Homo sapiens: one gene and its partners. Each later gene encodes a partner of the first gene's protein in a complex. Each region holds a gene or a part of one and is shown in the gene's direction. Other genes may lie near its edges.

Evidence for each region.
Region 2: MED21 (region 1) and MED23 share a complex: the UniProt entries of both Homo sapiens proteins name them as parts of the mediator complex.
Region 3: MED21 (region 1) and MED24 share a complex: the UniProt entries of both Homo sapiens proteins name them as parts of the mediator complex.
Region 4: MED21 (region 1) and MED31 share a complex: the UniProt entries of both Homo sapiens proteins name them as parts of the mediator complex.
Region 5: MED21 (region 1) and MED12 share a complex: the UniProt entries of both Homo sapiens proteins name them as parts of the mediator complex.
Region 6: MED21 (region 1) and MED13L share a complex: the UniProt entries of both Homo sapiens proteins name them as parts of the mediator complex.
Region 7: MED21 (region 1) and MED16 share a complex: the UniProt entries of both Homo sapiens proteins name them as parts of the mediator complex.

Annotation. Positions count from the first base shown.
Region 1 is NC_000012.12:27,025,331-27,029,117, forward strand, and holds part of MED21 (mediator of RNA polymerase II transcription subunit 21), read left to right. Parts: intron 1-1,089; coding exon 1,090-1,204; intron 1,205-2,016; coding exon 2,017-2,117; intron 2,118-2,954; coding exon 2,955-3,131; 3' UTR 3,132-3,787. UniProt on the Homo sapiens protein: Component of the Mediator complex, a coactivator involved in the regulated transcription of nearly all RNA polymerase II-dependent genes.
Region 2 is NC_000006.12:131,589,874-131,594,352, reverse strand, and holds part of MED23 (mediator of RNA polymerase II transcription subunit 23), read left to right. Parts: intron 1-17; coding exon 18-254; intron 255-1,181; coding exon 1,182-1,347; intron 1,348-1,892; coding exon 1,893-1,965; intron 1,966-2,825; coding exon 2,826-3,040; intron 3,041-3,910; coding exon 3,911-4,031; intron 4,032-4,479. UniProt on the Homo sapiens protein: Required for transcriptional activation subsequent to the assembly of the pre-initiation complex. Component of the Mediator complex, a coactivator involved in the regulated transcription of nearly all RNA polymerase II-dependent genes.
Region 3 is NC_000017.11:40,030,016-40,034,494, reverse strand, and holds part of MED24 (mediator of RNA polymerase II transcription subunit 24), read left to right. Parts: intron 1-1,038; coding exon 1,039-1,150; intron 1,151-1,288; coding exon 1,289-1,439; intron 1,440-1,732; coding exon 1,733-1,846; intron 1,847-2,404; coding exon 2,405-2,452; intron 2,453-2,874; coding exon 2,875-2,957; intron 2,958-3,249; coding exon 3,250-3,336; intron 3,337-4,479. UniProt on the Homo sapiens protein: Component of the Mediator complex, a coactivator involved in the regulated transcription of nearly all RNA polymerase II-dependent genes.
Region 4 is NC_000017.11:6,645,042-6,648,917, reverse strand, and holds part of MED31 (mediator of RNA polymerase II transcription subunit 31), read left to right. Parts: intron 1-3,876. UniProt on the Homo sapiens protein: Component of the Mediator complex, a coactivator involved in the regulated transcription of nearly all RNA polymerase II-dependent genes.
Region 5 is NC_000023.11:71,135,220-71,139,698, forward strand, and holds part of MED12 (mediator of RNA polymerase II transcription subunit 12), read left to right. Parts: coding exon 1-34; intron 35-1,061; coding exon 1,062-1,436; intron 1,437-1,659; coding exon 1,660-1,810; intron 1,811-1,967; coding exon 1,968-2,164; coding exon of another isoform or gene 2,165-2,173; intron 2,174-2,338; coding exon 2,339-2,416; coding exon of another isoform or gene 2,417-2,506; coding exon 2,507-2,724; intron 2,725-4,479. UniProt on the Homo sapiens protein: Component of the Mediator complex, a coactivator involved in the regulated transcription of nearly all RNA polymerase II-dependent genes.
Region 6 is NC_000012.12:115,959,131-115,963,609, reverse strand, and holds part of MED13L (mediator of RNA polymerase II transcription subunit 13-like), read left to right. Parts: intron 1-90; coding exon 91-203; intron 204-2,211; coding exon 2,212-2,344; 3' UTR 2,345-4,479. UniProt on the Homo sapiens protein: Component of the Mediator complex, a coactivator involved in the regulated transcription of nearly all RNA polymerase II-dependent genes.
Region 7 is NC_000019.10:889,627-894,533, reverse strand, and holds the start of MED16 (mediator of RNA polymerase II transcription subunit 16), read left to right. Parts: upstream 1-1,346; 5' UTR 1,347-1,448; intron 1,449-3,384; 5' UTR 3,385-3,402; coding exon 3,403-3,571; intron 3,572-4,289; coding exon 4,290-4,397; intron 4,398-4,726; coding exon 4,727-4,896; intron 4,897-4,907. UniProt on the Homo sapiens protein: Component of the Mediator complex, a coactivator involved in the regulated transcription of nearly all RNA polymerase II-dependent genes.

The DNA of each region.
Region 1 (3,787 bases):
ATATGAAGGAGTAGTGGAAAACGAGTCAGTAGAGTTGACTTAGATTATTGAAAGCTTCAAAACAGCCTGAGTTGGAGATTTATCTTGAAGACAGTGGTGGAGTAAGCTTAAATGTTTTGATCAGGTTAAAATAAATAACCTGGTGAACTGGAAAACAACAAGAAGACTATTGTAATAATTCTGGTGTGAGATAATTGGTTGAACTAAGCAACAGTGATAGAAGGAAAAGAGAAAGATTTGTAGTATTAGCAGAATATGAAGATCAAAGGAAAGTAAGAATCTGAAGTTAGATTGGTTGACTAGGAGACTTTCAATACAAATTAAATATTAAAAAGAGGAAACAGTTGCCTTTGAGTTCTGTCATTGAAACAATGGCAGAGAAACCCAGTGGAAATACTTATTAGAAATAGGAGGTTTGAGAGGTCAAGACTAGGTGAGAGAAATTGGTAGGGAAGATAGGTGTATTTAATTTGGAGATGGTAAGGAATTGCTATTCCCAATCTTTAAAAGTACTTAAGGAATACTTTTAGAGTACAAGAGTTTACAAATTGAGTCTTGAACAAATACATTTCTGCTTACTTAAGGTGCTTTTCTGAGCAGCCTCTTCCTCACTATTTCTTTACACTTGTAACTACTCCAGTCTCAGAAAAGGAATCATATACTTTGTGCATGAGAAATAAATTTTTATTAAACATGGTGCCATAGATATTTACAAGTCAAATTTGCTCTTTTCCATCACTATCCCCAAAAAGTCTTTACTTGTGGCTTACAATAAGTATTGGCCAATATTCTCTTATCATTTTACTATCACAAGAAAAGAAAGATTATTTTGTATTTCAACTGTTTCAACTAGATTTATATCAAATTTAACTTTACCTAGATTGATACCAAACTTAGTTTCTTTGCAGAATTAAAACGTTTAATCAACATTAATAATAACTGGCTTATTTTATCAACAATCACTCCTTTCTGTTTTATTCCCTTGCTCAGAGATTATCATTACAGAAACTTATTGTTGTTGCCATTACCAATAAAGTCCTTAAAACTGATAAGTCCTTTCTAACCTTGATATGTTTTCTTTGGCCTAAGCTTGCAGATCAGTTTTGTAATGCCATTGGAGTATTGCAGCAATGTGGTCCTCCTGCCTCTTTCAATAATATTCAGACAGCAATTAACAAAGACCAGCCAGCTAACCCTACAGAAGGTAAACAGGTTTTCTTAGCTTCTCTTAGTTTGACTCTCACATTTTTTGTAATCCTTTAAAATTAGATTTCTTGAGAAATTCAGCTTATTTTATTTCTAAAATTATTGTTGTTTGAGAATATTACAAGTTTTGTTTGTTGTAAAAAATTTACAGTCAATTCACCTAACATCTCATAATTCTGGTTCATGTCAGATAATAGATTGTTACTCCTTTAGAGGAGAATTTGTATTAATTTAGCTGAGTGAGGGACCTTAACAAGGAAGGCATCCCATTTATAAATTTCTTTATTCAGGTGACCACTATATTGTCATAATAAATGAAATTACATACATTATGCTTAATTCCCAATTTGAGCTAAATGTGTAACAGGATTGGTGTATATTTTAATCATTAGAATCTTCTTTTTTTTTTTGAGACGGAGTCTCGCTCTGTCACCTAGGCTGGAGTGCAGTGATGCAATCTTGGCTCACTGCAACTTTCGCCTCCCGGGTTCAAGGAATTCTCCTGCCTCAGCCTCCTGAGTAGCTGGGATTACAGGCTCATGCCACCACGTCTGGCTAATTTTTGTATTTTTAGTAGAGATGGGGTTTCACCATGTTGGTCAGGCTGGTCTCAAACTCCTGACCTCGTGATCCGCCTGCCTTGGCCTCCCAAAGTGCTGGGATTACAGGCGTGAGCCACCACGCCTGGCCGAATCATTAGAATCTTAGGGCAGAAAAAGCTATATGAAGTTTCTGGTTTCATTAACTTAAAATTTGTTTCTGAAAACTTGAGGTTTTCTAATATCCTAATCTAGCAGTATCTTTCTCTAGAGTATGCCCAGCTTTTTGCAGCACTGATTGCACGAACAGCAAAAGACATTGATGTTTTGATAGATTCCTTACCCAGTGAAGAATCTACAGCTGCTTTACAGGTAAGCCTCTATTCCTTTGAGAATTTTACCAGTAATAGAGAATTTTGAATTAAAGGAGGTAGATTTAGTACCTTTTGTCTGTGTCCATTTGTGCTGCTATAACAACATACCTGAGACAGTAATTTATAAAGAACAGAAATTTATTTTCTCACAGTTCTGGAGTCTGGGAAGTCCAAGATCAAGGCATTTATTACTCACTGTGCATGAGTAATGAATTTTTATTAAACATGGTGCCATGTTTAGGGCCATGTTGAGGGCCTTCTTCCTGTTTCCTCACATGGCTGAAGGCAGAAGGGCAAAAGAGCAAGAGCTCCCTCTTCAACCTCAAGCCATATTTTAAGGGTACTAATTCCATCTATGAGATCTCTGCCTTCATGACTTAATATCCTCTTAAAGGCCCCTTCCCTCTTAATACCATCACATTGGGGATTAGATTTTAATGTATGAATTTTGGAGGGGATGCATTCAAATCATAGCACCTTTTGTTATAATATTCAAATTTCCATTATAAGGAAACCTCTTATTTTCCTCAATTTTGTCTCTTTTCCTAGTGAAGAATGAGAGGAGGGTGGCATTCTACAATTGGAGTAGAATAATGGTGTCTAAACGTAATGTGTAAGGGAGTCACTTAAAGATATCTAGAGATCTCTAATTGAAAAGTCATTCTTTTTAATAATTCACATGGGGAAAATTCTTAAAAGTTGTCTGATTTTTAGAATTTCTTTACTGAAAAACATATCACAATGATTGCAAAGTCATCCAGATTTAAAAATAAGTACATCTGTGACAGCTTCTCTTTCTAAACTCTAAAGATTTTAAAATTTGTGTCTTATAAAGGCTGCTAGCTTGTATAAGCTAGAAGAAGAAAACCATGAAGCTGCTACATGTCTGGAGGATGTTGTTTATCGAGGAGACATGCTTCTGGAGAAGATACAAAGCGCACTTGCTGATATTGCACAGTCACAGCTGAAGACAAGAAGTGGTACCCATAGCCAGTCTCTTCCAGACTCATAGCATCAGTGGATACCATGTGGCTGAGAAAAGAACTGTTTGAGTGCCATTAAGAATTCTGCATCAGACTTAGATACAAGCCTTACCAACAATTACAGAAACATTAAACACTATGACACATTACCTTTTTAGCTATTTTTAATAGTCTTCTATTTTCACTCTTGATAAGCTTATAAAATCATGATTGAATCAGCTTTAAAGCATCATACCATCATTTTTTAACTGAGTGAAATTATTAAGGCATGTAATACATTAATGAACATAATATAAGGAAACATATGTAAAATTCTGTTATGACATAATTTATGTCTCCATTTTGTTGTATTGGCCAGTACTTTTACAAATCAAAACATCTCTCAAGCCAAAGGAGAAGACAGTAAGAACAGACATAAGGGACATTTTAGTTTGGGCTAGTGTCCTGCCTCTTAGAGGTGGCATTGTGTAAATCTGAGCTTTGAGCAAGAAAGTTTTGGAAATTGTGTTGCTTTTAAGAAATAGAGTTAGTGTGGCTGGATAAGAAAGTCACATTTATGCAAATGTTTCTTCTGCTAGAACCTCATACCTGTTCTAGTTCATCTCCACGTTTATTTTACCAAGAGATCCTCTGTCAAGAGAATTTCCTGGCTGTTGTGAAAGAATTTTTCTACATCCTGAACTAT
Region 2 (4,479 bases), on another chromosome or scaffold:
TGTTTTTTTCTTGGCAGATCGTCCAGTGACTTATCTGTATAACACTCTGCACTATTATGAAATGCACCTGAGAGACCGCGCATTTCTCAAACGAAAACTCGTCCATGCGATCATTGGCTCTCTGAAGGATAATCGACCGCAGGGCTGGTGTCTAAGTGACACTTACCTGAAATGCGCTATGAATGCACGAGAGGAAAATCCTTGGGTTCCAGATGACACCTACTATTGCAGATTGATTGGCAGACTAGTCGATAATATCCTTTTTATTGTGATTTTAGACTCCCAGAAATAACAGTATTTTGATTTATGAGAATATATTTTTTCTTTTAAAGTAATTTTTTATGTATTTCAAGGTTTTAATTTTTTTTAAGATCACTTCCATTTTCATCTCTGTAAAGATTTGAAATCTTAAATTAACAGCATCATGCCAATTAGGCTGAAATTCTGTTAAAATTTTTATTTTAGAACTTGAGGATAAGCGGTAAAAAAATTATATTTAAAAATAGACTTTATGGAGATTTGTTTCAAAGAAAAAATCTTATTCTTACATACTATATTTTGTAGCACATGCATCTGTGTGCTACTGGAGAACGTAGGATCTTGTTACTTTAAAAAAATTAATGTTTGTAGTAAATAATAAATGATAAAATATATTTTTCTTTATTGAAAAGGTATATTTTAGTGAAAATATACTTGGATGTTTATTTCTTCATTTTGATTTTATATTTTCAGTTATTAGCACTCTATACTTAATGTCTATAACCATACCACTATTTTACTAGGTAAGAAATTCTACATAAATGAGCATGACTTATTTTCCTACACAAAGGAATTTATTTTCTGAAGCAAAAGAATGACTCATTAGAAAATAATTTTCATATTAATGTCTTATAACTATTAAAAGAAATAGGCTCATGAAACCTAGGTAAACCTTGGTTGCATCTGTGGCTATTATATGTCATATTTATAAGAACCCACCTGAAAGACCAACCATTTATACCTGTGGTTAATCAAATGGTTGCTTTTAATACATTTCAATCATGTCAAACTCATTTGTATTTGGTTTGCATTTGCCTCTTAATCTCTCTAAGCGTAGACAAATCACTTCTTGGCAGCTCATAATCAGATAAATTGACAATCAGATGAGATAGTCCAATTGTTATTGCTTTAACTGTGTGCACCGATGGCTGGCAAATCTCCTGGTCCCTTTCCAAACTGTGACTGGAGATTCAATGAGTTTCCCAACCCAGCTGCCCATGCTCTCCATGTTACTTGTGTGGAGCTCATGGCCTTGGCAGTTTCAGGCAAAGAAGTTGGGAATGCCCTTCTAAATGTTGTCCTAAAAAGGTATGTATTCTGGTTCATGCAGTAAGATTTGTTGTTTATTTGTAAATAGAATGGTATTCTATTTCAAACTTTTAAGACAAACCTGTTGCCGCAAGGCTGATGCACATTGGATGATGACTGTTTTCTGGTTCCAGATCTTGTCTTTGTGATATAGGAGTTATGGAATGAGCCCTGGACAGGATCCTAAGATCCGGGTTTGTTCCTACTTCTACTCATTAATAGCAGTTTGACATTTAATATAGGAATAATGTTAACTTGTCACTTAAAACAAGATTCTCTTCATCTTGTTTTCAAGATTTCAAGATTCTTTTAAAAATTAGCATGAAGTATGGGATAATGATTGGGGAGGAAGTATTTTTAAAAAGCCTTCTTGAGTTTTTATGCATATTACATTTTTATTCAATAAAAAATTCCCCATTGTTTTATTGAAATGGATTAGTTGTCGATCCTCTGAATTAGACATATTCTTTAAAAATAAGATCCGTTGTCAGCCATCTAAAATGTTTTTATAAATTCATACTTACATTCTTTTTTGCCGGTTGCAGTCAGCCTTTAGTGCCAAGAGAGAACATTACAGCATGGATGAATGCAATTGGTTTGATCATCACTGCCCTACCAGTGAGTTAATAATTGTGATTTGTACTTAGTGATGAAATACAGCCAGCTGTTCCATGTCAGCAAAAAGAAAAAGATGCATATAGGATGCCCTTGTACGGGACGTCATGCAAATTAATGAAGTATTTTATGTTTTTAAAGTTTTTTCATATTATTACTGCTTTAAAAATCTACAGTGACTAGTTTTTGCTTTTCTGTATTAGATCTAAATATATCTATGTGACTTACGGGTCTCTGCATTTTCTGGTACCACCTTACCTATCCAACTTTAGTTTTTACATAATAGCTTGATCTACTCTTGGCCACTTAACGTGTTGTATATCTACAGCCTTTGTTCCTTCAGATAGTGCTTAAGACATGTTTTAGGTACTTCTGAATGTGAGGGAATAAGACATTTTTCTTATTCCAGAAGCTTCTTCTTTCCATCACCTTCTCTAAAGCCTATTCATTCTTTGCTAGCTTAGAGCCTCCTTTCTCAGTGAATGAAGCCTTCCCTGACTTTTCCAGCTCACATGAAGACTCCTTTCTCTGACCTCCACACATATTTTTTTAAAGTTTATTATTTTTAAATAAGTAATAAAGCTATAGATTTATTGTTTGATAAATTAATTGATTTACTGCATAGTGTATATCAGGTACCTAAATGAGCTGGACAGATACATGTATGGAGCCCCTTAACTCACAGTTACTTCTCCCAGGTTGTTACTGACTTAATTTGACCAGTTACAAAGCCACCCAGCTGTATTGTGCAGAAGCTGGAAAAATAGAAAACTTTAAAGAATGAGAAAACACTATTACTTTAGACTTTGGGGTGGAATGCTGGATAAGTGATATTTTTCACTAGCTTTCCTCCGATTTTAAAGGAGCCATATTGGATTGTTCTTCATGATCGAATTGTGAGTGTCATCAGCAGCCCCAGCTTGACGTCTGAAACAGAGTGGGTTGGCTATCCATTCCGCCTCTTTGATTTCACTGCCTGTCATCAGTCCTACTCTGAGATGAGTTGTAGCTATACGTTAGCTCTTGCACATGCTGTGTGGCACCATTCTAGCATCGGACAACTTTCTCTCATTCCAAAGTAAGTATAATAATTTCTTAAAGAAATTTGACGTAGGCTGGGTGCGGTGGTTCATGCCTGTAATCCCAGCACTTTGGGAGGCCGAGGTGGGCAGATCACAAGGTCAGGCGATTGAGACCATCCTGGCCAACATTGTGAAACCCCATCTCTACTAAAAATACAAAAATTAGCTGGGCATGTGGTGTGTGCCTGTAACCCCAGCTACTCGGGAGGCTAAGGCAGGAGAATCACTTGAACCAGGGAGCTGGAAATTGCAGTGAACCAAGATCGCGCCACTGCACTCCAGCCTGGTGACAGAGTGAGACTCCATCTGAAAAAAAAAAAAAAATTGTATTTCATTTTGTTCTAATCTCATTAACAGATGAGGTATATACTTCATTCATTAGAACAACTTGCGGCTGGGCGCGGTGACTCATGCCTGTAATCCCAGCAATTTGGGAGGCCGAGATGGGTGGATCACAAGGTCAGGAGATTGAGACCATCCTGGCCAACATGGTGAAACCCCGTCTCTACTAAAAATAAAAGAATTAGCCAGGCGTGGTGGTGTGCACCTGTAATCCCAGCTAGTCAGCAGGAGAATCACTTGAACCCAGGAGGCGGAGGTTGCAGTGAGCCAAGATCACGCCACTGCACTCCAGCCCAGGCAACAGTGTGAGACTCCGTCTCAAAAAAATAAATAAATAAAAATAATCAAGTGAAAGTAATAGCCAGTGAGAGATGTGAGATTAATTAGAAATATTATTGTTACCAAATTAAAAGGAACTTTAAAAAATTATATTTTATTGTAATACTTTGTATATACTGTATGAACAAAATTCAAACAATTTAAATAATTTCAAGTCACAGGAGATTTTTATCTTCAAATTTTAGGTTTCTTACTGAAGTACTTCTTCCTATAGTGAAGACCGAATTCCAGTTGCTTTATGTATACCATCTTGTTGGACCATTTTTACAAAGATTTCAGCAAGAGAGAACTCGTTGTATGATAGAGGTAAAATATAATCTGGGTTTCCTGTGACATGATTAAATTCTGAAGTATCTATTTAAGTTTCTTTACCAGTGTTATTGAAACTGCAGGTCACAACCATTAGTAGTGAAACTAGTTTAACAGGATCCAAGAGCAATTTTAGAGGACTTAGTTTGCCAGTAATGAATTTAGGGTGGGATGTATTGAATTGGAGATGCAGAGGAAACGCCCATCATGAAGGTTGAGAAGAGGTTAAGGATGGAGAAGTACATTTGAGATCTTACAGTGCAGAGGAGCTAATTAAAATCATGAGAATGGATGAAGTCAGTCACTTCTAACAAAATGTCGCAAACAAGGAAAGGACCCAGGAGTAGAACCTTAAAGCAAGAGCTACCAAATGGAACTAAGAAAGTATAATCCAAAGGATCCCTAGGAGTGGAGTTATCCCAGACATCGAGAGATGGTGTCTAGA
Region 3 (4,479 bases), on another chromosome or scaffold:
AGTCTTGCTCCTTGAAGCCCAAGTGGCTTGGGACCACCTACAGGTCTCTTGTTCTCCAGGAACAAGAATGCTAGAATGGGCTACTCTCGAGGCTTCAGGACCTGGTTGGAGAGCTTGTTTTAGGACTAGTATATTTATTTCTTCCCCAAGTATGTTTTACTGCCTGTGAAAAGTCCAAAAAGACAATCTTTATATAAAAATGGACTGTGTTGACAGCCTCTTCCCTACCTTGGGCCCTTGATAAATGTTTATTGGCTGAAAATCGGATGAATACTGAATTTTAATGGATCTCAGGTCTTGTCTTTTTTTCCCCCTTTTATGCTCCATGGAGGTTAATGGGCTAGTTGGTGCCATTATTCATCATTTGACCCTCTGGAATTGTAACTAGGATAAGTAACTTATAGTTCAGTGCTAACCAATATGGCTTAGACCATGAGTGTGGGCATTAAGGAGAGAACAGTGAGTTAGACCAGTCGGGTGAGTTGCTAAAGGAACTGGGGCTTGAACAGAAGCTTAGAGCATGGTGGGAGTTTGAGAGAGAGTGTGTAAGAGGCCTTCAGCAGGGGAGGGCAGCAAACGCAATGCCTAGATGAGGGAGTGGTTGAGAATGAGAAAGCCATTTAGGGACCCAGTTCCCCCAGAGGAGAGTGACAGCCTCTGCAAGACTGGACTTTGGGATCCGCTCACTCCTCGAGTGATTTGTGGCCGCCCTCCCTGTTCCAGCCACTGGATTCTGGCCTCCCTCTGCCTCTCTCTCCTGAGCCTGTGTGATGCCATACCTTCTGAAGTCAGCTGGCTGTGTCCCCTGGAAATCAGGCTTTTGGGAATGGTCTCTGGGGTTTCCAGCTCTAGGTGCCCACCCCCCTTCTGGAAACAGTGCATGCTGCCCTCAGGCCCCTCCCTCCCTGTTGTCCTCAGGGGAAGCCTTCCTGTGTGGTTTCGTGTGCCGGAGGGAGTGCCAAAATCGAGGAGTTCAGGGCCAGGTGCTCCTTCTCTCCTGTTTCCCATCATGTTTCTGTACTTCCTTCCCTCTGCCAGCTTCTTGGACTGCCATCGAGCATTCTCTCTTGAAACTTGGAGAGATCCTGGCCAATCTCAGCAACCCGCAGCTCCGGAGTCAGGCCGAGCAGTGTGGCACCCTCATTAGGAGGTACCGGCTCCCTGGGGGATGGTGGAGAAGGGAGAGGGAGGACACGCCCTGGGGTAGGAAGATGTGGCACCCGTGCCATCCTCTCCGCCTTCACCTTTGGCCCCCCAAACACCGTCCCCTGTGTTTGTGACCCCTCAGCATCCCCACGATGCTGTCTGTGCATGCGGAGCAGATGCACAAGACCGGCTTCCCCACTGTCCACGCCGTGATCCTGCTCGAGGGCACCATGAACCTGACAGGCGAGACGCAGTCCCTGGTGGAGCAGCTGACGATGGTGAAGCGCATGCAGGTGGGAGGGGCCGAGTGGCTCTCCCTTCTCCAAGGCAGGCCAGCCTGTTGGGGGCAGGAGGGAGGATTCTTCTGGTTCTCCCTGGGAGAAGTGGGGTTTCTCCTGCTCCATGATGGAAAGTGGGTGCCAGTCGTGCACACTTCTGTCATTGGACCTTACTCCCCTGGTTCTCAGCACATAGCTGAGCAGTGACTCTGCCATGCAGTCTCTGACCCAGCCAAATCCTCAGAGTCCACAGAAGGGTGACGGGGTATGGGCACCCTCTTAGGCCTCATCCTTGGCTCTTCCCACAGCATATCCCCACCCCACTTTTTGTCCTGGAGATCTGGAAAGCTTGCTTCGTGGGGCTCATTGAGTCTCCCGAGGGTACGGAGGAGCTCAAGTGGACAGCTTTCACTTTCCTCAAGGTACTGGGGACGTGGGAGGGGCAGAGCCAGTCTAGGAATGGTTCTTAGCAAGACCAGTGGCACCCTGGACCTTTGCCCTGTGTTCCTCCCTGCGGGCACTGGGCCCAGCCTGCCAGGTATTCCAGTGCAAGTTCCCATTGATCATTTTCTCTGAAAGTGCCAGGGCTATATTTAGCCCATTTGGCAGACTCCGTTGTTTCTTACCACAGAGGTGCAGTTTAGCTTGGTCATCAGACAGATAGGTGCAGGGCAGTAAAGGGAGCCAGGGAAAGGGGCCCCAGTCCTCCTTGAAGCTGGGGATCCACTTTTGCTTATGGCATCTTTTTCTGTTGAGCTAGCGGAGGTGCAGGGTGCTTGTGTCCTGTGCCTAGGCCTGGGGGCATCAGGGGCCTGGGCACCTATTGGCTTTCTCATTTAGCACTAAGTGTGCTCTCACTCCCAGGGTAGGAGTGTTCCTGTCTCTCTTCCTGGAGCAGGGGTTCGGGGGGATGCCTTCAGGGGTAGATGAAAGAGAAAAGAAATGGATCTTCCTGTTTTTCCCCCTGCCTCACCCCCTAGATTCCACAGGTTTTGGTGAAGTTGAAGAAGTACTCTCATGGAGACAAGGTGAGTTGGGGATTGAGATGGAGGCATGGGAGCAGAAATAAGGGCAAAGGGGAGGGTCCTTCAGGCCCCAGCTGGGCAGTGTTCTCATGCCTGGAAGAGAGCCGGATGTGAGTGTACACCTCAGCGTGCACGTGCTTCACAATGTGCATGCTTCAGCATGTGCGTGTGCTTCAGCATGTGCGTGTGCTTCAGTGTGTGCGTGCTTCAGTGTGTGTGTTTCAGCGTGTGTGTGCTTCAGCGTGTACGTGTGCTTCAGCCAGTGTGTGTGCTTCAGCGTCTGCGTGCACCCACAACATACACCCAGGCTCCAGGCAGAAAGCAGCCAGGCAACTCAGGCCGATGCCTCCAGCAGACAAGGTTGCCTGAGATGATCAGGGCCTGGTGGCCCTGGAAACCAGATGGACACTTCTGCCTCTTTCTAGGACTTCACTGAGGATGTCAACTGTGCTTTTGAGTTCCTGCTGAAGCTCACCCCCTTGTTGGACAAAGCTGACCAGCGCTGCAAGTATGAGCTCCCCTGGTCACCCCCGCCCTACTGGAAGGCGTTCTGGGCTCTTCCCCTGATCTCTGTGCCAGAGAAGCCTCAGGGGACTCTGTCTCCTTGTTCACTCCCCTTGGCAGGGGCAGGAAATAGGAGCCCACAGTTGCCAAGTCCCCAGAGCCCCTCTACCGTCCCTCAGGCACTCCAGATTTTCCTCATCCTGAAAGAGGGAGGATGCTGCTCAGGGACCTGCCACTCCCACCCCTCACCATCCTATCCAGGTGCCCAGTTCCCTCAGCATCTTTCTCCCTCACAGCTGTGACTGTACAAACTTCCTGCTCCAAGAATGTGGCAAGCAGGGGCTTCTGTCTGAGGCCAGCGTCAACAACCTTATGGCTAAGCGGTAAGTGTGAACGCACCTGTGCTACCCCAAGAGCCCCTTGACCTCTCTCTTGTTACGGTGGGGCTGCTGCGTGCCTTTCAACCTCCTGTCGAAAGTTTGGGCTGCAAGTGACTGGGACCGTGCCTGGGGGTACAGGGAACAGGAAGGAAAAGAAAGCACAGATGTCTTCAGACCAGAGTTTTACACTCTTAGTCACTGCTCTTTAACTCATACCCATCTTTGTGATAAAAGTAAAAATCCTAGGCTGGAGGCGGGTGGATTACTTGGAGGCCAGGAGTTCAAGACCAGCCTGCCCAACATGGCAAAACCCCATGTCTACTAAAAATACAAAAATCAGCTGGGCGTGGTGGTGTGTGCCTGTAATCTCAGCTACTCTGGAGGCTGAGGCACGAGAATTGCTTGAACCCAGGAGGCGGAGATTGTGGTGAGGCGAAATCATGCCACTGCACCCCAGCCTGGGCGATAGAGTGAGACCTTGTCTCAAAAAAAAAATAAATAAATAAATAAAAATCCTGAATCTTCCTTTAATCTTAAATGTGCTTTCAGAGCATTTAAGACTAATGATAGGCCGGCTGCGGTGGCTCACACCTGTAATCCCAGCATTTGGGAGGCCAAGGCGGGTGGATCACGAGGTCAGGAGTTTGAGACCAGCCTGGCCAACGTGGTGAAACCCCATCTCTACTAAAAATACAAAAATTAATCAGGCGCGATGGTATGCACCTGTAATTCCAGCTACTCAGGAGGCTGAGGCAGGAGAATCACTTGAACCCGGAAAGCAGAGGTTGTACTGAGCTGAGATCGCGCCACTGCATTCCAGCCTGGGTGACAGAGCGAGACTCTGTCTCAAAAAAAAAAAAGACTAATGATAAATTGCCAGGTGTGCTGGCTCACCTGTAATCCCAGGACTTTGGGAAGCCAAGGTGGGTGGATCACCTGAGGTCAGGAGTTTGAGACCAGTAGAACATGGTGAAACCCCGTCTCTACTAAAAATACAAAAAAGTAGCCAGGCGTGGTGGTGAGCGCCCAGCTACTCTGGAGGCAGAGGCTGCAGTGAGCCGAGATCGTGCCACTGTACTCCAGCCTGGGCAACAGAGTGAGACCTGTCTCAAAAAAAAAGACTAATGCTAAATCAGTGATTGCAAC
Region 4 (3,876 bases), on another chromosome or scaffold:
TGGAAGCCTTAGCCACCAACAAGTTTAATCTTACCCACAACGTTGCCGAGAGATGGTCATCTACACTCTGGAGGTTTCCATTGAGCCCGTGTTACTCTGTCAGGGACAGCTGATTCGATTGTTAGCCAGATATTAGAAAGTTCTTCCTTATATTGTGATATAATGTACCTCCTTGTAGCCCCAGTCTGTTTGTCCCTGGATGAAGCTAGAACCATTCTATACCCTCTTGAGGACAACAGCCTTCCAGATATTTACATTCAAGAGAGACTGCAAATTAGCCCCTTTTGGGTGTTTTATTCAGTCTGCAGAAGATTTTAGTTTTTTTAATACTTGCCAACATTTAAAGATCAGAAAGTTGTATATAACAAATGCAGATTTCCAGCTACTCTTTCAAATCTGGAAGATCTAGTAACCATAGATCTTAATTCTCCCAAGTCAACAACTGGGCTGAAGCTGAGAGCAGCTGTCACTACTAGCTGCTTTCCACCTGGTGGAAGAGACACTTTCTACCACTTGGCCTGCTTCATTGATAGCCAGTAGGTGCCACTATAACATCTCTCTTCCATCTATTTTTCTCAACTACCCTCTGCCATTGTGCCATGGTGTCCAGAGTTCTCATGAGTTGAGGTTCCCTCCTTTGGATATTTGGCAGTTGTACTTTATGCAGTTCAGCCAAGAACTAAACACAGGCCTTCAGGTGTGGTCAGAGTACAGTGGGCCAGAGGTCCTTTCTTTTCTTCATGTGGTCATACACCTCTGTTAATTCAACTTAAGTTTATATTACTTTTGGGGGTGGGAGTGGGGAAGAGGATCACATTGTTGACTTGCTGGAAGCATTATGTCAACTAAAATCCTTCAGTTCTTATTTTCATCATGCTGTTGGGTTCTCCCTATGTTGTTTCTTTTTAAAAACACCAAATGCAGAACTTCCCTTTTATACTGCTTCTATTTCATCTTGTTGACTTGTAGCCTATCAGAGTATGATTCTTTATTGTCATCTAAGGTATTCTGATATAATCACTGCATGTCTAAATTCTAGTTATTGACTAAATGCTACTTGAGACCATTCTCTTGGTTGTCACATTATTTTACAGTTGAAGAAACTGAACCTTAGAGAGGTTAAGTACCTTGTTAAAGGCCACCTGGCTGGAACATAACATCCTGGTCATTTTAACTACTAATGCTGTCATGAAAGGGAGTTAGCCAGGGCAGGTGTGAATAGAGCATTCTAGCATAAGCAGCCAACAATTAGAGCAACTGTGTATTTTTAGTGTGTGGATAGCAAATCTTTGCTGTCTTGGAAGTTACTATCTTAGAAGCATGGTATTAAGCCCTCTATTCAATGTGGTGTTCACATCAGTAGCATTGGTTTCATTTGGGAGCTTTTTAGAAATGCAGAGCTCAGGCCCCACTCCAGGCCTAAGGATTCAATCTGCATTTTAAGAAGTGACCCATATACACATTAAAGTTTTAGAAGCATTGCTGTAGTATCCTATTTTCCACACTTTAGTCATTTGCATATCACTTGTGCAACTTTGGCTTTATCTGCATACTTCCTGAAGGGGGCCTGCCCCTCCACACCTGTGGGTATTTCTCGTCAGGTGGAGATGAAAGAATGAGAAAAGAAATAAGACACAAAGTATAGAGAAAGAACAGTGGGCCCAGGGGACCGGCACACTCAGCATGCGAGGACCCGCACCAGTGCCGGTCTCTGAGTTCCTTCAGTATTTATTGATCATTATTTTTACTGTCTTGGCGAGGCGAGTGTAGCAGGGCAACAGGTGGCGAGAAGGTCAGCAGGGAAACGTGAGCAAAGGAATCTGTATCATGAATAAGTTCAAGGAAAGGTACTGTGCCTGGATGTGCACATAGGCTAGATTTATGTTTCACTTTACACAAATATCTAACTAGCAGAGAGCAACAAAGCAGTATTGCTGCCAGCATATCTCGCCTCCAGCCACAGGGCGGTTTTCTCCTATCTCAGAATAGAACGAATGGGAATGGTCGACTTTACACTAAGACATTCCATTCCCAGGGACGAGCAGGAGACAGAAGCCTTCATCTTATCTCAACTGCAAAGAGGCCTCCCTCTTTCACTACTCCTCCTCAGCACAGACCCTTTACAGGTGTCGGGCTGGGGGATGTAAGGTCTTTCCTTTCCCACGAGGCCATATCTCAGGCTGTCTCAGTTGGGGGAAACCTGGACAATACCCAGGCTTTTCTGGGCAGGGGTCCCTGCGGCCTTCCGCAGTGCATTGTGTCTCTGGTTAATCGAGAATGGAGAATGGCGATGGCTTTTACCAAGCATACTGCCTGCAAACATATTGTTAACAAGGCACATCCTGCACAGCCCTAAATCCATTAAACCTTGATTCAATATAGCACATGTTTCTGGGGGCACAGAGTTGGGGCTAAATTTACAGATTAACAGCATCTCAAAGCAGAACAATTTTTCTTAGTACAGATCAAAATGGAGTTTCTTATGTCTTCCTTTTCTACGTAGACACAGGAACAATCTGATCTCTTTTCCCCACACTTCCTATATGTTAATGTATTTTAATTGTCTGTTAGCTTTTATGTCTTTTCAACTTGAAATAATTTCACTTACAAAATAGCTGGAAAAATAGTAAAGATAATTCCTGTATTTTGTTCACCCACGTATTCCAAATGTGTAACACTACAATCAGCAAAAATCAGCACATTAATATTATTACCTAATCTACAGACCTCATTCACATTTTGCCAGTTGTTCTGCTGGTGTGCTGTATGTAGTGCAGGATCCAGTCTAGGCCCGTATGTTGCATTTTGCTGTCATGTCTTCTTAGTCTCCTTTCATCTCAGTGGTCTTTTCTTTTCCATGACTATGACAGAAATGATTTGTATCCTTCATATATCTGCAGTCACATGAAGTCTATTTGTCCCACTACTGGTGACGTAAATTTTGGTAACTTGGTTGAGGGTGGTACCGTCTAGGTTTCTCCATATTAAGTTGCTATTTTTCCTTGTGTATTTAATAAGTATCTTATAGGGAAATCCTTTGAGACTATGTAAATATCATATTACATGTATTTTGCCTGTTTTAGCATCTTTTGAAGATAATTGCCTGAAACATTTTTTACTGTGATGATTTTCTAATTCTATCATTCTGCATTTATTAGTTTGGAATTCGATTGTAAGGAATTATATTCCCTTGTTTCCTATTATTTTATTAAAGAAATTTACATCCATTTAGTGTGGACTTTTGGATTCTTATTTTTAGTAGAATTATGAATTAGAATTATGTATTTTCTTGCGCTAAGTATTCCAGATTTGGCCATTGGGAGGCCCTTCAAGTTGGCTCCTGAATACTTTTGATCCTCCCAGGAATTTTTAGCACTTTTTCTTCTGGCACTACGTAATGTTCCAGGCTCATCTTGTACTTTTCCTGTCTTATCCCTGAATCACCCTTTTCTCCAAGGAAACCTGCTCCTTGGAAACCACAGTCTGGTCATTGTGTGTTCATTAGTACCACAGTGTCATTGCTTCTAGGCCCTGTCAGTACACAAAGCTCAAGAACTATATATATATGTATGTATGTGTATACATGCACACACATATACATGTTTATTCTATGTCTATATTAAAAGCCGTAAGTACATACTGATGTTTTCAATACCAGCTCAGTAACACAGGGTTCATTCTAGCCTTTTTCCTTTCCATGTCTATAACTCCTTTTCTGATAGCCAGAAATTTGGCTGTCCTTATCCACAGTATATTTGCTTGTCCAATCCTAGAGTATATCTAATTTCAGAATTGGTATATCCCTGTGGACAACAAGAGTACAATGTATGCGCATAGTCCTCTTTCACACTCACTTTTAAATGAAAGTTGTCTTTT
Region 5 (4,479 bases), on another chromosome or scaffold:
GATTGCTGGCTTCGATTCCATCTTCAAGAAGGAGGCATGTTCCATTGTCTGCCCGTGTCCCTTGCCTTTTTTCCCCTTTGGGCAAGAACTTTGCCTGCATCAGCTTTGTAGCTCCAACAGACTCATCAGATTCAGGAGCCCATCAGTCTCTGCCGGTGAACACCATCTCTGGGGTTTTGAGCAAATCACTTAACTTTCCTTACATTTCATCTCCATCTTTGAAGTCCCACCCTCTTTCCTTCACCCTGCCCTCACCTTTTAACATACCACCCATTTTTCAATACCCTACCCTCCTCTTTCCTCTGCTCCACCTGCCCCATGTCCTACCCCACCCATCTATCTGGCCGACAGCCTGTATCTCTTTTATTTCTGTGTTTCCCTACACCCACCCATCTCTGCACACTTTTATCTTTTCCCTCTCTGTCAGTTGCGGTATTTGTTGAGTAACCATAATTATTGTGTATAGTTTAAAACCCAAAGTCTAACTCCTTCATATATACATTCTCTTCATCTGTCTTCCTAGTCCATCTGTCTCTTTTCCTCCGTCTCTGTCTCTCTCCCTGTCTGACTCGTTTGCCTTTCTTTGTCTCTCCACCTTTTTGTCTCTCTCTTCCTGTTTCTTTCTCTCTCTGACTCTTTCTCGGCCTGCCTAAAGGCAGAGTCTCTCCCTGCCTTCCTCTCTCTCTTTCTCTGCCTTCCTTTTTCTGTCTTCCTCTGAATGTCAATCCCTCTCCCTCCCCGCTCCCTCTCTGGCTTTCTCCCCAACCCCTTTCTCTCCCGATCTTCTCTCCCCACACGCCCCCCGCCCCGTTAGTTCATCTCCTCTCCTGGTCTGGGCTGGCTTCATCTTGTGCCTCCACACCTCTCCCTGTGCCCCACCCTTCACTCTCTCCCCGCATAACTCTCTTCCGCATGTATATGTGTATCCATGTCTGTCTGTCTGCTTCTTACCATCTCTCCTGAATCTGCCTATGACTTTCTTTCTACCCATTCCTACAAATGCTTGCAGTCTTCTGTTTTCTAAGTCCCAACAGCTTATTGTTTTTCATTTTCTGGAGCAGGGTCTACAGGTTTCCACCAAACAGAAGATCTCGCCCTGGGATCTTTTTGAGGGGTTGAAGCCGTCAGCACCACTCTCTTGGGGCTGGTTTGGAACAGTCCGAGTGGACCGGCGAGTGGCTCGAGGAGAGGAGCAGCAGCGGTTGCTGCTCTACCACACACACCTGAGGCCCCGGCCCCGCGCCTATTACCTGGAGCCACTGCCACTGCCCCCAGAAGATGAGGAGCCGCCTGCTCCTACCCTGCTAGAGCCTGAGAAAAAGGCTCCAGAGCCCCCCAAAACTGACAAACCGGGGGCTGCTCCACCCAGTACTGAGGAACGCAAGAAGAAGTCCACCAAGGGCAAGAAACGCAGCCAGCCAGCTACCAAGACAGAGGTGAGCGCCTCCCCCGTGACAGTTCTCCCACAGCCTCTCACTTCATGACGCTCCGGTTTCTGGTTTGTGGGAGGGGTGGGGGCGCATAAGGAAGGGGTGCCATTAGAATCATAATAAAAATTAACCATATACGAATTCAGCTCCTCTTTACCTCATTCTCCCCCAGCTCCCCGACCCCATTCAGCTACAACCCACTCACCCTCTTCCTCTGCCACTCACACAGGACTATGGAATGGGCCCGGGTCGGAGCGGCCCTTATGGTGTGACAGTGCCTCCGGACCTCCTGCACCACCCAAACCCTGGTTCTATAACACACCTTAACTACAGGCAAGGCTCCATAGGCCTGTACACCCAGAACCAGCCACTACCTGCAGGTGAGTGCCAGCCACTAGGAATGCTGGAGGGACCTACCTGTACACTCCCCCTGCCCAAAGGATGATGCCATTCCCCTGAGGAGCTATGGATGTCAAGGACACTGAGCAAGAGACAGAGGGATGAGGAGCCTAGAGGTCAGCCCACTCTCCTTTTCAGGTGGCCCTCGTGTGGACCCATACCGTCCTGTGCGCTTACCAATGCAGAAGCTGCCCACCCGACCAACTTACCCTGGAGTGCTGCCCACAACCATGACTGGCGTCATGGGTTTAGAACCCTCCTCTTATAAGACCTCTGTGTACCGGCAGCAGCAACCTGCGGTGCCCCAAGGACAGCGCCTTCGCCAACAGCTCCAGGCAAAGATAGTGAGAGGGGCAGTAGGGAGGGCTGTCAGGGAGAGGGGCTTTTGAGGGTCACAGGACGGAGGAGACACTTGGGATCTTCACAAGGACACTCAGGGTGGGAGACACAAGAGATGAGATGGCAGCAAGCATTTCCTGAGTTTGAGTTGTTCTCTTTTCTCCCTTTAGCAGAGTCAGGGCATGTTGGGACAGTCATCTGTCCATCAGATGACTCCCAGCTCTTCCTACGGTTTGCAGACTTCCCAGGTAAGAGCCTGGGATTGTGAGACTAGGGGGATGAGGCAAGCTGCTCTGCATACTCTCGGCCCTGATTCCCTCTCTCCTTCTTCCCTCCAGGGCTATACTCCTTATGTTTCTCATGTGGGATTGCAGCAACACACAGGCCCTGCAGGTACCATGGTGCCCCCCAGCTACTCCAGCCAGCCTTACCAGAGCACCCACCCTTCTACCAATCCTACTCTTGTAGATCCTACCCGCCACCTGCAACAGCGGCCCAGTGGCTATGTGCACCAGCAGGCCCCCACCTATGGACATGGACTGACCTCCACTCAAAGGTACCCAAAGTAGTGGTGAGCTAGGAAGAGATGCAGAGGTATAAGGGAGCATTTGACTTGGGAAAGCCTGTGCCTGAAAGTGGTGGGACTGGTCAGAACTTTCGGAGACATCAAGAATACTTATCTGGCCACATAGCCCATAACCACAGAAGTCTCGAGCTGGAAGGGACCCTGGAGACCAATAGTTTCATGACTACTTCCTTAACAGTTCTTTGAGGCCCAGAGAGGGGAAATTGTTTATCTGACTCAAGGAAAAATCTGGGCTGGGTGTGGTAGCTCACACTGGTAGTCCCAGCACTTGGGGGCCCAAGGTGGGAGAATCAGTTGATTCCAGGAATTCGAGGCCAGCCTGGGCAACATAGGGAGATCCCATCTCTACAAAAAAAATACATATTTTTTTGAAACAGAGTCGCACTCCATTTGCCCAGGCTGGAGTGTCGTGGCATGATCATGGCTCACTGCAGCCTCGACCTCTGAGGCTCAGGTGATCCTCCTACCTCAGCCTCCCAAGTAGCTAGAACTACAGGCACACACCACCACGCCCAGCTAATTTTTTGGATTTTTAGTTGAGATGGGGTTTCGCCATGTTGCCCAGGCTGGTCTTGAACTGAGCCACCACACCTGGCCAAAAAAAAATTTTTTTTTAATTAGACAGGCGTGTTGGTGCATGCCTGTAGTCCCAGCTACTCAGGAGGCTGAGGTGGGAAGATTGCTTGAGCTTGGGAGTTTGAGGCTGCAGTGAGCTGTAATCGCACAATGAGCCGAGATTGTGCCACAGCACTCCAGTGGTGACAGAGTGAGACCCTGTCTCAAAAAAAAAAGAAGAAAGAAAAGAAAAAGAAAAAAATATCTGGAGTTCATAGATGAACTACATGATAAGGAGTCGTAAAGCCAGTACCGGCTTTGAATACCAGGTTAAATACCAGGATGGACAAATGAATGAATCCTCCCACCATGGTTAACGTTAGTCAAGCCTTAGTTGAGGCCTTGTAACCATGTATAGAGACTCTGAAGCTTAGGATTAAGAACACTGGGGAGTGGGCTAACTGCCCATTGTGTGGCCAGCACTATACCAGGACTGGGTGAGGTGAAGAAAGATAGCAAAAAAAACCCCCACGATACATAGTTCCTCACTACAAAGAATCTTTACTATAGCTGGGGAGATGAGACTTATAGAAGAATATTGAGAGAACACTCTGAGCAAAGATATAATCAGGTATGCAGTTGTATGCTATGAGGTAAAATGTGGATTGAGAAAAAGTACGTGGTAATATCTGTGGGCCTGACTCATCAGAGAATGTTTCATGAAGGAGGTCAGACTTGAGTTGGCCTCTGAAGAATAGCTGTGATTGGGATTTGTGGAGAAGAGGAAAAGAAAGGGCATTCCAGGTAGAGGATGTAACGTGAACAAAGACATGGGGACCAGAATGAGGATGGTGCCTGGGGAGAAGGGCCTGGATGGAGTGTAAAATCTGTGCTGGGGAAGTCACTGGGGCTAGGCTAGGAGGGGGCAGGCTGAGAGATGGCCTTGAATGCTCAGCCGAAGAATTGAGACGCAGTCCCAGAAAGGGCTCTTTTGATCAGAAGAGTGATAGGAGGAGTTGGGTATGTTGCAAGGTTCCTTGGAATGAATGGATAGGATGTGTACTGGAAGGTGCAAGAAGAAGACTTCAGGCCAGGCACGGTGGCTCATGCCTGTAATCCCAGTACTTTGGGAGGCCCAGGCAGGCAGATCACCTAAGATCAGGAGTTCGA
Region 6 (4,479 bases), about 89 Mb from region 1:
GAGCATCTGCTTCTGGCAGACATGGCCTCCCTCACTTCTGCACTGTGATTGTCTAGACCAGAGAGGTAACTCTCTTTGTTTTTTCACCAGGCTTCGCTGCATCACCACATTTCAGTAGCACAGACAGACGAACTTCTGCCTGCCAGGAATTCTCAGCGGGTTCCACACCCTCTTGACTCCAAAACCACGTCGGATGTTTTAAGGTAGATACCAACCTAGGCATCATAGCAGTGCAATTTGAAACAATATTCCTTTACTGTTGTCTTTCCAAGGTGTTTTAATCTAAGTGTGGTATTCATAGAAGCTGCCGTTTGTGCAGTGATACAGTATCTGATGAGTCAGTGAGAGCTGCAGTCCCTCATAGCTGCATGGGACAGGCGGTGTAATACATTGGATTCAGTTAGGCAGTGATAGGCATTTATAGTTGCCTTTGCTTCCTGTTCAGAGCAGGCACTTCATGGTGATGAAGAGAGGTCAGATCTTGGGGGTGGATAGTTAGAAGACAGTGTCTGGAACTCTTAAAGCACCTCACATTGAAAACACTTTTTATGCTTCCTGAGATAGATTATGTATTTTTGTTTGTTTATTCGAGATGGAGTCTCGCTCTGTCACCCAGGCTGGAGTGCAGAGGCGTGATCTCAGCTCACTGCAAACTCCGCCTCCTGGGTTCATGCCATTCTCCTGCCTCAGCCTCCCAAGTAGCTGGGACTACAGGCACCCGCCAGAATGCCCGGCTAATTTTTTGTATTTTTAGTAGAGACGGGATTTCACCGTGTTAGCCAGGATGATCTCGATCTGACCTCATGATCTGCCTGCCTCAGCCTCCCAGAGTGCTGAGATTACAGGCATGAGCCACCGATTATGTGTTTTTTTAAAAATGGACTAGAACATAAATGACATAGTTGAGAAGTGCATTCCAGAAGTGTGTATTAATCAAGCCACAGGCATTCTTCATCTACCTTGAGAAAATATACAGGCCTTTTCTAATGTTTTCTAACTCTTAAATGGTTAGGAAATGATAGGAAACTATATATTATAGATTAATGTATAATTATAGTTATGGATAAAAATAAAGAACCTGATCAACATAAATTTGGCTTCCAGGCCCCCTAGAGCAGGGGTCCCCAACCCCCGTCCATGCCTTGTTAGGAACCAGGCCCCACAGCATGCGGTAAGTAGCAAGTGAGCGAGCATTACAGCCTGTGCTCCGCCTCCTGTCAGGCAATGACATTAGATTCTCATAGGGGCACAAACCCTATTGTGAACCGCACATGCAAGGGATCTAGGTTGTGTACTCTTTATGAGACTCCTAATGATTTAAGGTGGAACAGTTTCATCCTGAAACCATCCCCCACCACGTGGAAAAATTGTCTTCCACGAAACTGGTCCCTGGTGCCAAAAAAGGTTGGAGACTGCTGCCCTAGAGGAACACTGTCCAATAGAAATACAATGTGAACCTCAAATCTAATTAAAATTTTTCTGTTAGCCACATTAAAATAGTAAAAAGAAACTGGTTAATTTTAGTAATATATTTTATTTAACTCAATATACTCAAAATGTTATTTCAACATGTAACAATATAAAAATATTCATGAAATATTTTACATACTTTTCTTTTTTTCGTTTTCTTTTTCTTTTTTTTTTGGAGACGGAGTCCTGCTCTGTCACCCAGGCTGGAGTGCAGTGGCATGATCTCACTGCAACCTCCGCCCACAGGTTCAAGCAATTCTCCTGCCTCAGCCTCCCAAGTAGCTGGGATTACAGGCATGCACCACCACGCCTGACTAATTTTTGTATTTTTAATAGAGATGGGGTTTCACCATGTTGGCCACCTGGTCTTGAACTCCTGACCTCAGGTGATCCACCCCCACCTCGGCCTCCCAAAGTTGCTGGGATTCCAGGCGTGAGCCACTGCACCTGGCCCCTAAGTGTTTGGGCTCCAGTGCCTACTTTACCTGCAGTCCACGCAAGTTCCTACTGGCCTCACTGGCGGAGCTCAATGGCCATGTGTGGCTGCTGGCTACTGTACTGGATAGTCCATATCTAGAAGGAAGGAGGAACATGAGACAAAGGATGAGGGAAAGAGCCTGGGGCAAGTTAAGGAATGCCTTTGAGACCTCCTTCCTGCTAAGATCTGGAATGTATTAGAATCTGAGAACCAGCCTTCCCTCTTGAGGCTCACGCCCCTGCTCTGTGTGTTCTCTTTGGCAGGTTTGTTTTGGAGCAGTACAACGCTCTGTCCTGGCTCACGTGCAATCCGGCCACCCAGGACCGTACTTCCTGCCTTCCCGTCCACTTTGTGGTGCTCACTCAGTTGTACAATGCCATCATGAATATACTTTAATTGGAAAAGCACTTGTTCTCTCTGGCTCAGTTCCTTCTCCCTGCAACCTCAGTCCAAGGAACCTGCTACACTCTGCAAATAACCCACATCCTTTTCTTCAGACCACTCTCCACAGTCCTGCACTGTGATTCCTTCTCAGCAGGCACATGTCAATTCTGCAGTGTTCATTACCAGAGTGACTCCTTGACACTTCTCTCATGGACCTGGAAACTTCCATAAGTGGTGACTTTCAGCCAGTGCGGTGGTGTGTGTAGCCCCAACCACTGGTCCCCAGGAAGTGGTGGTGGTTGATGGCTTTTCAGCGGGAAACAGAAGAGACAGTGTCCTTTTGCACAAGAGTCTGTGTTTTCAGCCTCTGTATACAATTGAGGGCAGTCTAGCCCTTTGGATGAAATCCTCTTAGTTACTGGTGTATGGCCTGTGGGTTACCTGAACTCCATAATCTGGGACTTTTTAAAAATAAGAACCAGCTCAAGTACATGGTTTCATACTGGGGTTTCTGTCTCCCTAGTGTTCCCATCCAGATTAGCATGAGTGCTTTGGTTGACTTCAAACCTGTGTGTCAATGCAGAAGGTCTGGAGACAGCTTCATTTTGTTTATTTATTTTAATTTGTTTTGTCATATGGTTTTTGTGACTTTATTTTTTTAATTCACAAGGACCAGGTACAGTAGCTGAAACCCAATTCAGATCCACCATAGGATTCTTTGACTACATACCTCTGTCCTAGAAGCCGGAAAAGGAGTAAAAACACATTGGGGAGATCATGCCTAAAAGTAATATATTCAAAACCACCCAGCAGTAGGTTTTGTTAACAACAAACTGGATTTTAAAAGTTCTGCCATGTTAAGTGGCCAGCATTTCATGAAGGATAACATTTTTATACAGAAGGCAGTCAAGCTCAACTCAGAGCCATGGAGGCAAGTACCTTAATTAGTTTTATATAGTCACAACGGAAATATATTTTCTAGTGAATTCTTATTGGAAGCCAGGTCTCTCCTCTCATTAGATCAAAAGGGACTTATGTACATACAACAATTGAAAGTGTTTGCTCATGAAATCAGTTATAAATATGGTGAATTTTTTCTGGACCATAGGAATATTATTTCAAAGAAATATTACAACTTAACCATTAAATTAGTACTTGAAGTTGAGCCTTTGTGGTGGGACTTTTTAAAAAAATGCCTTTTTAAAGCATTAATGGCTAATTGAAGTATTTTATGACTCCTCATTCCTGGCCCAGAGGGTTGTCTTTGAAACCCTGTTTCTAACCCTTGTGTTGTGTGTTTCTGTCTGAGGACAGTGGGTGTGTACTGGCCTCCCGGGAGCCACTGTGACCAGGCCTTTGAGCTCTTGTCATCTGTGGAGAGAATCATGCAAATTTTAAAAGTTCTTCCAAGAGACTTCCATGTCCTGGTTATTAACAAAAAAGGAAAAATGTAATAATTGATATGATTTTGTAAAAGTATTTTTCTTGAAATAATCTAAAGTTTAAAACATTATATTAAAAAAAAAGTTGTGTGGTGGGAATGTGAAAGCAGAGAAATAACTTGTAAATGGATAATTTTGTTCTCTGTACCACCAGTTGAAGGGGGGGTTGACTTTCGCAATGTATAGGATAAAAAATCTGATATATCAAACCATTTGTATCTAATGTGTACAGTGTAAAATTGACTTTAAAAATATTGCAGTGCTATTTTTTCTTAATCAGAAAGGAAAATTCTCAAGGCCTTTTGAAGAGCATAAGAAGATGAAGATTGTAAACTTGTATAAAATTATCTTGGTGAGAAGACAAATTGTAAAGTAGATATTTGTAATCTTTTACCACTTTGGGGTTGCTTTTTTCCCGGAATTCATCAGAACTTTGAATTTTTTTTTTAAATGGGCTGTTTTTAATGCAGGGGCTTTTCTTCCCTAGAAACCCAATTCTAAGCAGAAAAAGAAAAAAAACACAAAAAATAAAAAACCCCTACAAAAAAACTTTAAAAAAAATGGCAGCAAAGGGTAGTTTTCATCTGGTGTCTTTTATTTAAGTTTTTTAAGTTAAGAAAAGCTGGTGACATATTTATACGTTTTTGTGCAAAAATAAATGAATGGCAATAGATTTTAAAAAATCTTATTATGTACTTCTGTGTG
Region 7 (4,907 bases), on another chromosome or scaffold:
CCATTGTTAACCTGTAATTTTAGAACAGTTTTATATTTGCAGAATTCTTGCAAAAATCATGCAGTGAGGCCGCGGTGGCTCACGCCTATAATCCCAGCACTTTGGGAGGCCGGGGTGGAAGGAGGGCTTGAGGCCTGGAGTTTGAAATCAGCCTGGGCAACATAGTGAGACCCCATCGCTATTAAAATTTTGAAAAAACAGGCTGGGCGCGGTGGCTCACGCCTGTAATCCCAGCACTTTGGGAGGCTGAGGCAGGCAGATCACCAGGTCAAGAGACTGAGACCATCCTGGCCAACATGGTGAAACTCCGTCTCTACTAAAAATACAAGAATTTGTTGGGCATGGTGGTGCGCGCCTGTAGTCCCAGCTACTCGGGAGGCTGAGGCAGGAGAATCGCTTGAGCCTGGAAGGCGGAGGTTGCAGTGAGCTGAGATCGCGCTACTGCACTCCAGCCTGGGCCACAGAGCGAGACCCTGTCTCAAAAAAAATAAAAATAAAAATAGAAGAGCACCACATCCATTGCATTAAACTGGCTTTTGGAGGAGGAGGTGGGAATAGGGTTGGAAGTAGGAATACTCAACGGGGTCGGTGACTTCGCTTACAGTTTCCCCACTCTTGGACATTAGAAAATGGAAGAAAGGCCGGGCGCGGTGGCTCACACCTGTAATCCCAGTACTCTGGGAGGCCGAGGCGGGCGGATCAGGAGGTCAGTAGATAGAGACCACCCTGGCCAACATGGCGAAACCCCGTCTCTACCAAAATACAAAAATTAGCCGGGCGTGGTGGCGCATGTTTATAATCCCAGCTACTCGGGAGGCTGAGGCAGGAGAATCGCTTCAACCCGGGAGGCGGAGGTTGCAACAAGCTAAGATCGCGCCATTGCATTCCAGCCTGGGCAACAGAGCAAGATTCCGTTTCTGGGAGGGAAAATGGAAAAAAAAAAAAAAATATGGAACGCTTCACGAATTTGCGTGTCATCCTTGCGCAGGGGCCATGCTAATCTTCTCTGTATCGTTCCAATTTTAGTATATGTGCTGCCGAAGCGAGCACGAATATTGAGTTCCACCACCAGCTATTTAAAGCCCCTGGAACAAATGTCTGTACACATAGGCCGACTTCTCTTAAATGACCTAGAGATTTAACCTCTATTTATATTAGCCCAATGTGTAATGCAACTAACGTAGTTATTGACTGGAGTTGAGAAAGTGCTCGTTGTTCTACCAAATATAGCTACGGTGGCTGCTGGGAATTACTGGAAATGGTCGTATGCAAATAGCCCCGGAGGCGGGGCAGAGCCTGAGCCGCACCGCCCTCCCAGAAGTCTTTGGGAGGCGGCCCCACGCCTCAGGCGACTGGTTGTTACCGAGGAAGATGGCGGCGCCAGACCCGAGGCGCTAGGGAAGATCGCACCGCGGACGCCCGCTGAGCTTGGCGCACGGGCCGACCAGGTGAGTGCGGGGCTGCGGGGGCCCGGCGAGGGCGGACGGACCCCTGACCGTGTCCACGGACCCGAGGGAACGCGGCGCAGCCGTGGCGGGGCCTGCGGGGTCGGGGGCGTGGCCGGGAGCAAAGGCTGCTGGGTAGGCGGCCTGGGGCGCGGGGCGCGGGGCGCGGGGCGCGGGGCGCGGGGCGCGGGGCGCGGGGCGCGGGGCTCGGGGCTCAGGGTTTGCGGCGGAAACCTGGGGGAGGCCTGAGGCCCGCGGGGCTGGGTTCGGGGCGGGGCCTAAGGAGAGTTTGGGGCGAGGCTGAAGGCGCTTGGTGGGACTTCGGGGGCGGGGCCTGGAGTGGGTTTGGGGTCGCCGGGGTGGAGCCTGGGGACTGGGGGGCTGTAGAGGCAGGGCCTGGAGACTGCGGGGTTATCGGTGCGGGGCCTGGAGAGGGAATAGGGTCCCTAGGGTGGAGACTGGGGACTGCGGAGTTATAGGGGTCTGGAGAGGGTAGGGGGTCCCTGGGATGGACCCTGGAGATTGGGGGTTATAGGGGCGGGGCCTGAAGAGGCTATGGGGTCCCTGGGATGAAGCCTCGTATTTGGGGGCAATAGGGGAAGGGCCTGGAGAGTACGTGGGGTCCCCGGGGTGGAGTCTGGGGACTGGGGAGTTTTAGGGGTTGGGCCTGGAGAGCTAAGGGCGTTGGAGGCTGGACCTGGAGAGTACATGGGACCCCTACGGTGAAGCCTGAGAATTTAGGGTGAGGCCGTGGGCTCAAGGGGTGAAATGAAGTGTGGGAAGCAAAGGGGGTCAGGGGTGGGGCTGAAAGACTTTTAGAGGCTTGTGGCGGAGCCTTGGGGGTCTGGGGCAGGCCCTGAAGAAGTAGGGAGCCGGGGTTAGGGTTTGAGGAGAACCTGGTTGCGGGTGATTCCAGGCTCCCTGGGCTTTTGCCTTTGCGAAGCGAAACAGCCCGTCTGGATGCCAGGCGCTTAGAAAGCCTCGAGGAGGTGCCCCCTCTGTTCCCTGTGACACTCAGCCCCCGCCTCGGCCACAGGTGTTCCCCAACACACTCAGCCCCGCCTCGGCCACAGGTGTTCCCCGTCACACTCAGCCCCGCCTCGGCCACAGGTGTTCCCCGTCACACTCAGCCCCCGGCTCGGCCACAGGTGTTCCCCATCACACTCAGCCCCGCCTCGGCCACAGGTGTTCCCCGTCACACTCAGCCCCCGCCTCGGCCACAGGTGTTCCCCGTCACACTCAGCCCCGCCTCGGCCACAGGTGTTCCCCGTCACACTCAGCCCCGCCTCGGCCACAGGTGTTCCCCGTCACACTCAGCCCCCGCCTCGGCCACAGGTGTTCCCTGTCAGTCAGCCCCGCCTCGGCCACAGGTGTTCCCCGTCACACTCAGCCCCGCCTCGGCCACAGGTGTTCCCCGTCACACTCAGCCCCCGCCTCGGCCACAGGTGTTCCCTGTCACTCAGCCCCGCCTCGGCCACAGGTGTTCCCTGTCACTCAGCCCCGCCTCGGCTACAGGGAGCCGCCCCACCGCTTGCCTGTCTGCGGGCTCTTCCTTCGGGAGAGAGCTAGTGTCCACTTGCTGCCCCCATCATCACTCACCTGGGCCAGCGCAGACCCTCCGCTGCGTCTCCCGGCTGTGCCCTTGGCCCCCATGGTCTGTTCCCTAGACAGCCAGAGGGGTCCTGGTGAAACCCAAATAGGTCCCAGCCCTCCCGGGCTCCCACCTTACTGAGAGTAGAAGCCCACAGGCCCAGGACTGGCCCTGACCTCTCCATGTTCCCCCTCGGCCCCAGCCCCAGGCTCTGTCTGGCCTCCGGGCCTTTGCATCGGCTGTTCCCTCTACCACGGGCCTCCATTGTTTTCCCACTTCTGGCCTGGCACTCCACATGCCCTGGGTGCTCAGCCAACATAGACGTCCCACCACACCTCCCTCCCGCAGGAGCTGGTGACTGCCCTCATGTGTGATTTGCGGCGGCCAGCGGCAGGTGGGATGATGGACTTGGCCTACGTCTGTGAGTGGGAGAAATGGTCCAAGAGCACCCACTGCCCATCGGTGCCCCTGGCCTGCGCCTGGTCCTGCCGAAATCTCATCGCCTTCACCATGGACCTGCGCAGCGATGACCAGGGTGCGTCCCCCTCCCACCTGCTTCCCCTCCCGGCCGCATGGTGTCCCGCCCTGTTCCCCAGGTGCCCGGCCCACTGCCTTGAAGGGACTCGGTCTCTCAGGCCACCTCTCACTCACCCTGGCCCTCCTCTGTAACTTGTGTGAGAGCCTCAGCCTCCTGGGGGTACAGAGGGTGGATTCAGTGCCCCCCAAACCTGGTGCCAGGAGACATGAGATCGCCCCGTGTGCGGGATCGAATCGGGCTGGAGCGTTGGTTGACGGAGGCTTGTTGGAGACACGTGCCCCAGTTTTCTAGACGGTGTGTGTCACTGGTTTTTGAAAGGTGCGTGGTGGCTGTGCCCGTCTTCTCTCCATTGTTTGAGTAATAGGCACTCATAATACGTGGTCATTAGAGAAAACTAGAAAACCACAGAAAATTGGAATCAAATCGGGGTGCAAAAAAGCCACCTATTATCTGCTGTGGAGAGGCTCCCACTGTTCACATTTCGGAGTCATTTTCTTCTAATCTGGTTTTAAAGACACAGTTGTGGCGCCTCACAGGCCTGCTCTGTTCCTGCGGGGGGACAGCCTGTTCCCTGAGCTGTCGACTCGGCTGACAGCAGTTCTGTGACCTTCCTGGGGTGGGACACACACCGGCTTACCTGGAGCCTGCCTGGAGTCATCGTCATCGTCTGCAGGCTGTGGTGCCAGGCCGTGCTGACCATGCCCCGTCCCCACAGACCTGACCCGCATGATCCACATCCTGGACACGGAGCACCCCTGGGACCTGCACTCGATCCCCTCAGAGCACCACGAGGCCATCACCTGCCTGGAGTGGGACCAGTCAGGTGAGGCGCTGGTCCCACGTGGCCAGGGGTGGCGACCCGGATCCCGGAGCAGGGGGGCCCTGTGTTTCTCCGGTCAGTCTGGAGTCCGGCGCTGGGTCTAGAGCCCCTGGTCTGCAGCTTTGCACCTGCTGCTCTTTCCATAGTGGCCCGAATCATTCTTGTTCAGGGTGTCTCAGGGCATCTCTGGAGTGCGCCTTGTGCCACCTGCTGTGCCCTACCTGGGCCGAGACCTCTCCACTGGGCTGGCTTCCCCCAGGCGCTGTGCCGTCCTGCAACGCAGTGCTCTGCCCATCCCTGGAAGGTTCGCAATGATGGCTTCTTGCCCTCAGGCTCCCGGCTCCTGTCAGCAGATGCCGACGGGCAGATCAAGTGCTGGAGCATGGCGGACCACCTGGCTAATAGCTGGGAGAGCTCAGTGGGCAGCCTAGTGGAGGGGGACCCCATTGTGGCCCTGTCCTGGCTGCACAATGGTGTGAAACTGGCCCTGCACGTGGAGAAGGTGAGTGTCCT